Homo sapiens: one gene and its partner. The protein of the gene in region 1 purifies or fractionates together with the protein of each later gene. This does not show direct contact. Each region holds a gene or a part of one and is shown on either strand. Other genes may lie near its edges.

The links.
Region 2: the proteins of ATL1 (region 1) and RNF185 purify together in Homo sapiens (affinity purification with western blotting, with the first as the bait; one study listed by BioGRID). This does not show direct contact.

The regions. Positions count from the first base shown.
Region 1 is NC_000014.9:50,587,438-50,591,263, reverse strand, and holds part of ATL1 (atlastin-1), read right to left. Parts: intron 3,434-3,826; coding exon 3,186-3,433; intron 324-3,185; coding exon 189-323; intron 1-188.
Region 2 is NC_000022.11:31,194,561-31,198,386, forward strand, and holds part of RNF185 (E3 ubiquitin-protein ligase RNF185), read left to right. Parts: intron 1-908; coding exon 909-1,021; intron 1,022-2,375; coding exon 2,376-2,430; exon of another isoform or gene 2,431-2,597; intron 2,598-3,826. UniProt on the Homo sapiens protein: E3 ubiquitin-protein ligase that regulates selective mitochondrial autophagy by mediating 'Lys-63'-linked polyubiquitination of BNIP1.

The DNA of each region.
Region 1 (3,826 bases):
TCGTTATAATTTCGCCTACTCTGATCACAAGAAAGGGAAACAAAGATCATGCTATAGGATGCTACCCCACTTTAAGCTTCATGTCAAATGGTCAAAATTAATTTTCAAAAGTGCAACTTCAAGGATCCTAAAAAGTAGTAACTGTTATAAGTGAAAACTCAATTTTATTTAGGAAGTTAGCATCATACCTTTTTACCATCAGGTTTATTGATAAGGAAGATTTCACTCCATATCTGAATTCCTGTGGTCTCTCGCTCAGATCCACCTCTCCATGAAAAACCAGTCAATGGTTCATTGTAGTCTCCAACCCAATCAACTGATTCCTATAAAATGATAAAGTCTATGATATGGAACTTGATATGTGTATATAGTTTTTTCCATTCATTCATTCTGATTCTTATCCCTCTCCAATTCGAGTTAAAAGGAAACAACATATGCACATCTATTGCATTGATACCATCACTTTATTCATCCAAAAAATAATTACAGAGGAGCAACCATCTGCCACATTTTTGATATGTCCTGGGGATATAAAAATGAAAAGATATCATTGCAGACCAGAGGAAATTCACAGCCTAACAGCGAGACAGACATGCAAACAAACCATTATGATGCAATAAATGCATGCCAAAATGGAAGTATATATAATGCATAAATGGTAGCATAGAAAATAAATAACTAACCATTGGTCAGGCAAGACCACATAGGATGTTTGAGCTAAGACTTGAAAAATATTTAGGAATTTTCCAGGGAAGCAAATTTGGAGAAGGCATTCCAGAAAGGAAGGCAAGCAGGCAGGCAGGCAGAAAGGAAGGAAGTAGGGAGCATATTATGCTTTGGTTTTGTGGGAGGAGGAAGCAAGTAGCAGGAAGAGGCTGGACAGACAGCCAGATTCTGAAAGACCTTGTAAGGTCCTTAAGGGAGTCAGATTTTATCCTGCAGGCGACGGAAAGTTATGAAGAAGCAGAGATGAATTATCATCATAGTTGTGGTAGAAAGATACTATTCTAGAAGTAGGTAGGGCTAGTTAGTAGGGAAGGGAAATGATAGCTAGAAAAGATAAAGGTGGGGGTGCTATAATAAAGGTCAAAAATATGATTGAAGGTCTGACCAGGGCCAGGACAGCAGGAAGGAATAGACAAGTACTGATGCAAGTGGAGTTTGAGAAGCCAAAGGAAGACAGAATAGGAAAAATTATCAATTGTTTAAAGGCTGAAGATCAAGTTGGATAAGGCATGGAAAATATCCCATAGATTTAGTAAGTCAGTAATTGGTGACCTTGGTTGATAGTAGTTACCCCCATTTTGATATCTGTTACAGAGAATAAGTTATTAGTTTTTGGAAGATCTCATTAGATAATTGTCCAATCTAAAACCTTACAGTAACGAATGCAGAGGAATTTGGGAGAGGACTACTTGGACTGATAAAAAATCTACATAAACTAATTTAAAGAAAAATGTATTTAATTATATCCTATCTTGTTCTAAAAGGCATTTTAGACCGTTATCAAGAGCTTTGGTTCTTCTGTGAATTTGTTCTATTATCTGGCTCAATAACCTATTCAATCTTATTTCTTCTTCATCTCCAATACTTAATTTCCACTCTAGGGAAGAAGGTGTACACTCTGTTTAATACATATATTATACTTATTCCTCATAGTCCAGAATGTCCATTCTTCCTTTTCTGGTCCAGATCCACACATCTTCAAAATCTATTCTAACTTCCAATATCTCTATGAAGCTTTCTCCAGTTACTTTTGCCTACAATATGCCCTTCCCTGAACTACACTTAGAAATACGTCGATCAGGCTGGGCATGGTGGCTCATGTCTGTAATCTCAGCACTTTGGGAGGCCGAGGCAGGTGGATCACAAGGTTAGGAGTTTGAGACCAGCCTGGTCAACATAGTGAAACCCTGTCTCTACTAAAAATACAAAAAATTATCCAGATGTGGTGGCGCATGCTTGTAATCCCAGCTACTTGGGAGGCTGAGGCAGGAGAATCCTTGAACCCGGGAGGCAGAGGTTGCAGTGAACCAAGATTGCGCCACTGCATTCCAGCCTGGGTAACAAGAGTGAAACTCTGTATCAAAAAAAAAAAAAAAAAAAAAGAAAGAAAGAAAAGAAAAAATATATCTGTCACCATATCACCATGTAATGATGCTCTAAATATTTCACCTATTGTTATTCTGTCTCCTTGGCCAAACCATGAGATGCCTAAGTGCAAAATCTATGGTATGTTTTCTTTGGTATCCACCATAGTGCCTAGCACAATCTAGAACATTTAGCAGGTAGTCAATAAATAATTACTATTGAGGTAGAAATTGAAATTTTTCCAATAAGGTATTACCTGGAAAAATGTCTTGGGATGCATACTTCAATGAATAAATTGTGATTATTATTAATTAGCATAATAACATTTCCATAACATTCACTCTGAGTCAATGATCTACATTGAGATATTCATAAAAATCCTAAGCCTGAAAAATAACCTTGAAGGACAAGGAAAACATACCCAGCTAATTTTTGTGTGTTTTTTTTTAGTAGAGACAGGGTTTCACCATGTTGGCCAGGATGGTATTGATCTCTTGACCTCGTGATCCACCCACCTCGGCCTCCCAAAGTGCTGGGATTACAGGCGTGAGCCACAGTGCCCGGCCAGCAATTTATTTTCAAATGCATCAAAGAATAACTTGGAGTGATGGCTGGAAAGAGGGATGAATAGATGGAGTCATAAGTGATAAAGCAGGAATACTAATGTTAATGGTAGAATCTGGGTGGTGGATACCAAGATGTTTAGTATAAAATTTTTTTAACTTTGCTATATGCTTGAAATATTTCATACTAAATGTTGGAAAAAAGTGATTACAATACAAAAATTATGTGACATTTTAAACACTATAACATTTAAGTCTATAATCAGAATATTATGTGCCTATTTTTAAAAGAATAAAAATATAAGTTATATTCTAAGGGAAATGCAGCAAAGCAGCTTCAGAGAAAATTGGTCTGTGTAGTTTGGTCCCCAAAGCACTGAGGTTGGAATGGTTACACCACAGCATTTCTTTAGCTGGTTCATATATAGGGTACATAATAATAGAAATGAAAATTTTGAACACCATGAAATAAAAACATGAAGTGACAGAAGCACAGAAGAAAGAAAACTTTTTAAAGTACTTCCTGCATACCTGGTTGTACATGTATCTCAACATGAAGTCCATCAGGAATGATTTTCCTTTTCTAAATGCTCCAGCAACAGATACAGCAACAACCTCCTTGTCTCTGACAGCCTCCGAGAGAAGGATCCGATTTAATGCAGTTTCATCTAACTCAAAGGAATGGTCATCTTTGACAATGAGGACTTGGACTGGTCCTGCCTTTTTCACTGGCTCCTCCTCTTCTGAGCTCCATTCATATGTCTTTTCCGAAAATCCACCTGTTGAACAGAGCAGTGACTGGTTCAGCTAATCATCTCAAAGTGCCAAGAAATGTATATGTACCTCTTAACTCTCAAACATCCGACACAGGAGCATACTGGAATTATAAATGCTCATTTTATGCTGGGTGCAGTGGCTCATGCCTGTAATCCTAGCACCTTGGGAGGCTGAGGTGGGAGGATCGCTTGAGCCCAGGAGTCAAGAGCACCCTGGGCAACATAGTGAGATCCTGTCTATACAAAAAATTTTAAAATTCGTCAGGTGTGGTAGCACGTGCCTGTGGTCCCAGCTCTCAGGAGGCGGGGGTGGGAGGATCACTTGAGCCCAGGAGGTCAAGGCTACAGTGAGATATGATTGTGCCACTGCACTCCAGCCTGGACAATAGAGGGAGA
Region 2 (3,826 bases), on another chromosome or scaffold:
CTACTAAAAATACAAAAATTAGCTGGGCGCAGTGGTGGGCGCCTGTAATCCCAGCTACTTGGAAGGCTGAGACAGGAGAATTGCTTGAACCCAGGAGGCAGGGGTTGCAGTGACCTGAGATCATGCCACTACACTCCAGCCTGGGTGACAGAGCAAGACTCTGTCTGGGGAAAAAAAAATGAGAAATCACAGAAAGAAGAATATGACTGACAGGAAAATACAGTTGCTCCTACTGGGAAGGTGGGGATTTAAAGTTTGCTGTACTTACACCAGCAGCCTAAATTGAGGCTGGGCATGTCAGACTTGACAGCCCCAGACTTGCAGTTTCCCTCCCCCTGTGTTGCTAGGAGGCCCTAGAGAGAAACAAAGCATGAAGAAGCCTAATTGTGATGATTTTTTTTCTTTTTTTTGAGACAGAGTCTTGCTCTGTTGCCCAGGCTGGAATGCAGTGGTGCAATCTCGGCTCACTGCAACCTCCGCCTCCCGGGTTCAAGCGATTCTCCTCCCTCAGCCTCCCGAGTAGCTGGAACTACAGGCATGCGCCACCATGTCTGGCTAATTTTTGTATTTTTAGTAGAGACGGGGTTTCACCTTGTTGGCCAGGCTTCTCTTGAACTCCTGACCTCAGGTGATCCACCCACCTCCGCCTCCCAAAGCGCTGGGATTACAGGCATGAGCACCGCACCCGGCCAATTATGATGATATTTAAAGGCAATTTTGATTTTACCACTGGTAGGTATTTGCTGAATGGTAGGAGAAGGAATGGGAGTCAGGTTCCTTGAGATGTTCCCTGCTCATGCTGGTGTTTCCCAGTTTGAGGCCTCTGGCCTGTGTTGTTCTGGTGGCTCTGGCTGATCACTCTGGTGGGTCTTGGGCCATCCACATGCATTTTTCTCTCCTGTTTGCAGTGGTTGGAGACCAGACCTAACAGACAGGTGTGTCCTGTTTGCAAAGCTGGCATCAGCCGAGACAAGGTCATCCCCCTCTATGGAAGGGGCAGCACTGGGCAACAGGACCCCAGGTGAGGACTCAGGATGCCTCTCCCAACCACTTCTCCCCTTGGATGTGAATTCACTCCCATTCAGCATCCCCTAACCCCACCCTTTACTTAGTACTAGATGATCTCTTGGTTTCGAAGCAGTCTCATCCAGATGAGAGTCAGCTAGGAGGGGAGGGAAGAGAGGGGATCCAAGTTGCCACTTGCTAGGACCCAGCAGTGAACAGACATCACAATCACAAGTGTGCAGAGCCCTGTGAAAGAGCATTTCTGCAACCTGGGAAGCAGGATATGTAGCAGGAGAGGCTCCAGGGAGCAGGGTTGCTGCATCAGTGATGTATAAAGCATGGCGGGAGGGGAAACAGGATCTGGGTGACTTTGTGGAGTTTGGGATTTCTAGAAATGGAGATGTGCATGGGTCCAGCATTCAACAAACACAAGTATTGAGAGCCCTTCATGGTCTGGCATCCCCAAGCTCTCCAGAAGAATCTCTTACCTTTATCCAGCTACCCTAGCATATGCTGTGTACCCGACATATTAGACTTTCTCTTAAAGGGACTTGCTCTTTCACATTTATCAGCCTGTGTATTTGCTCTCTCTTCTGCCTTCTTCCCTCCCCAGTCCTGCTCAAGCTACCCCTCTACCCCCACCTGCTCCTCTAACTTCTACTCATCTCTTATGAGCAGCCCTAAAGTTCCCTCTTCCTTGAAGTGGTCTGTCTTCTTCACATTAGTTGCTCTCACCCAGTTCCCACCACAGTGTCATATGACTGGCTTTATCCCCCTTGAAACCATGAACACTTCAAGGGTTGGGTCTGTCATCAGTATTACAGCATCCTGCATAATGCTTATTGTATAACTAAGCCCTCAATTGAGTATTCATGGGTTGAGTGATTTGAGGGGGTGAGACTCAAAAATAATAGCATTGGGTATTTGCCCAAGAATAGTAGGAGATAGAGCTGAAGTTAATAGGGGAAGGTCAGAGAAACCATGAACCTCAGCCCTTACTGCTGACAACCCACCCTCTGTTCCAGTATGGATTTGGGATTTCTGTTATCTGTAACAGGCCCAGGGAAGGCATCTGGCCATGATTCCTAACCGATCTGAGTCAGGATCTCTGTAAGAGGAGTAGGCTGTAGTGCAATCTGGTGAATATCTCATAACGAGTTGATTTTCTCCCTGGTTCTCTATACACGTGGGAAGAACAGTTGCAGGTAGAATGAAGAGTTCGTATTTGGAGAATTAATCTGGCATAAGTTCATGTCCTGGACAAGAAAGAGGCTATGGCCCTGACCCTGTTGGTAAAGAGCTCCAGGTCCTCACAGGGAGCAACTCAAAGCAATTTGTAATAGACTTATTTTACACCATTTCTGTTTCAGAGAGAAGACCCCTCCTCGTCCTCAAGGACAGAGGCCAGAGCCGGAGAATAGAGGGGTGAGGAACATTCTAGGAGAAGCTTCTACAAATGAGCTGATGGCTTTAGAAGTTTCCTTCTTAGCCTTACAATTTTTCTCCTTGATTATAAAAGTAAAGGAAAACTTGTAAAATACAGAAAGGAAAAGAGGGGGAAAAAAATCACTTATAACCACACCAATCCAGAGGTAACCACTGGAAACATTTTGGTTCTATTTTCTTTTCCATTTTTCTATAATTATATATACACACAAATTTTACAAATCTGTGCGTGTATTTTACAGATGTGTGTATACTTTTTACAGTTTTTGTTTTTTGTTTTTTACAATATGTGGCTCCTGTTTTGTAACCCTCTCTTAAAATTTCATTTGTTCTACAGATACTTAGTACCTTCTTTGTGTGAGTGGGAGTCTTTTAGTATTATCTTGAGATTTTACATTGCCAGCAATATTTTACTAACTAGCTGTTTAGCATTTAGTTGTGTGGATTTAACATAATTCAATCCTTTGTTAGACATTAGCGGCTTTCTTTTTCCAAGTTAAAAAAAATCCTGATGAACTTACAGATAAATTTGTGAGCATGTTCATTATTATTTTATTAGGATAAGACAGGGTCTCACTCTGTAGCCCAGGCTGGAGTGCAGTGGTGTGATCACAGTTCACTGTAGCCTCGACCTCCTGGGCTCAGTCTACCTCAGCCTCCCATGTAGCTGGGACCACAGGTGCACGGCACCATGCCCAGCTAGTTTTTTGAGTTTTTTTTTGTCTTTCTTTTTTTTGTTTTGTTTTGTTTGGGTAGAAACAAGGTCTCACTATGTTGCCCAGGCTGGTCTCTAACTCCTGGGCTCAAGCAATCCTCCCACCTCAGCCTCCCAAAGTGTTAGGATTACAGGCGTGAACCACTGTACCTGGCTTAGGATAAATTCTTAGAAGTAAGATTACTGGCTAAAAAAAAATTGCACATTTGTCTCTAGTGGTCTAGTGGCTAGGAACAAAAACATTTACATTTTTTGCATATTTACATCAAATGTTACTCTTAAAAAAATTCTGTTAAAATGTTAAAGAAATTTTAAAAGCAAAATATTTACCCACCATTGCCAAGAGCCCAGAACAAGTATATTCTCATATCCTCATGTTCTCTTCATCTGTAGGCTGTGCATATGTATTTTTATGTAGCCATCACCATTCTGTTTGCTTTAAAATTTAATTTTGGCAGGTTTTCCATGATGCTCTGAAGTGTCCTCTTTATTATTTAGGCTGCCATTTATCCTATTGAGTTTTTTATTATTTTTTATTTTTCCATGCTATTGCTGGGAACCCATTGAGTTTTGGTTCATTGTAATTTGGGTTTTCCTCATCGAAGGACCTTTTAGTTGTTTCCCCATTTTGCTGTTTAAATAATGCTACAATAACCATCT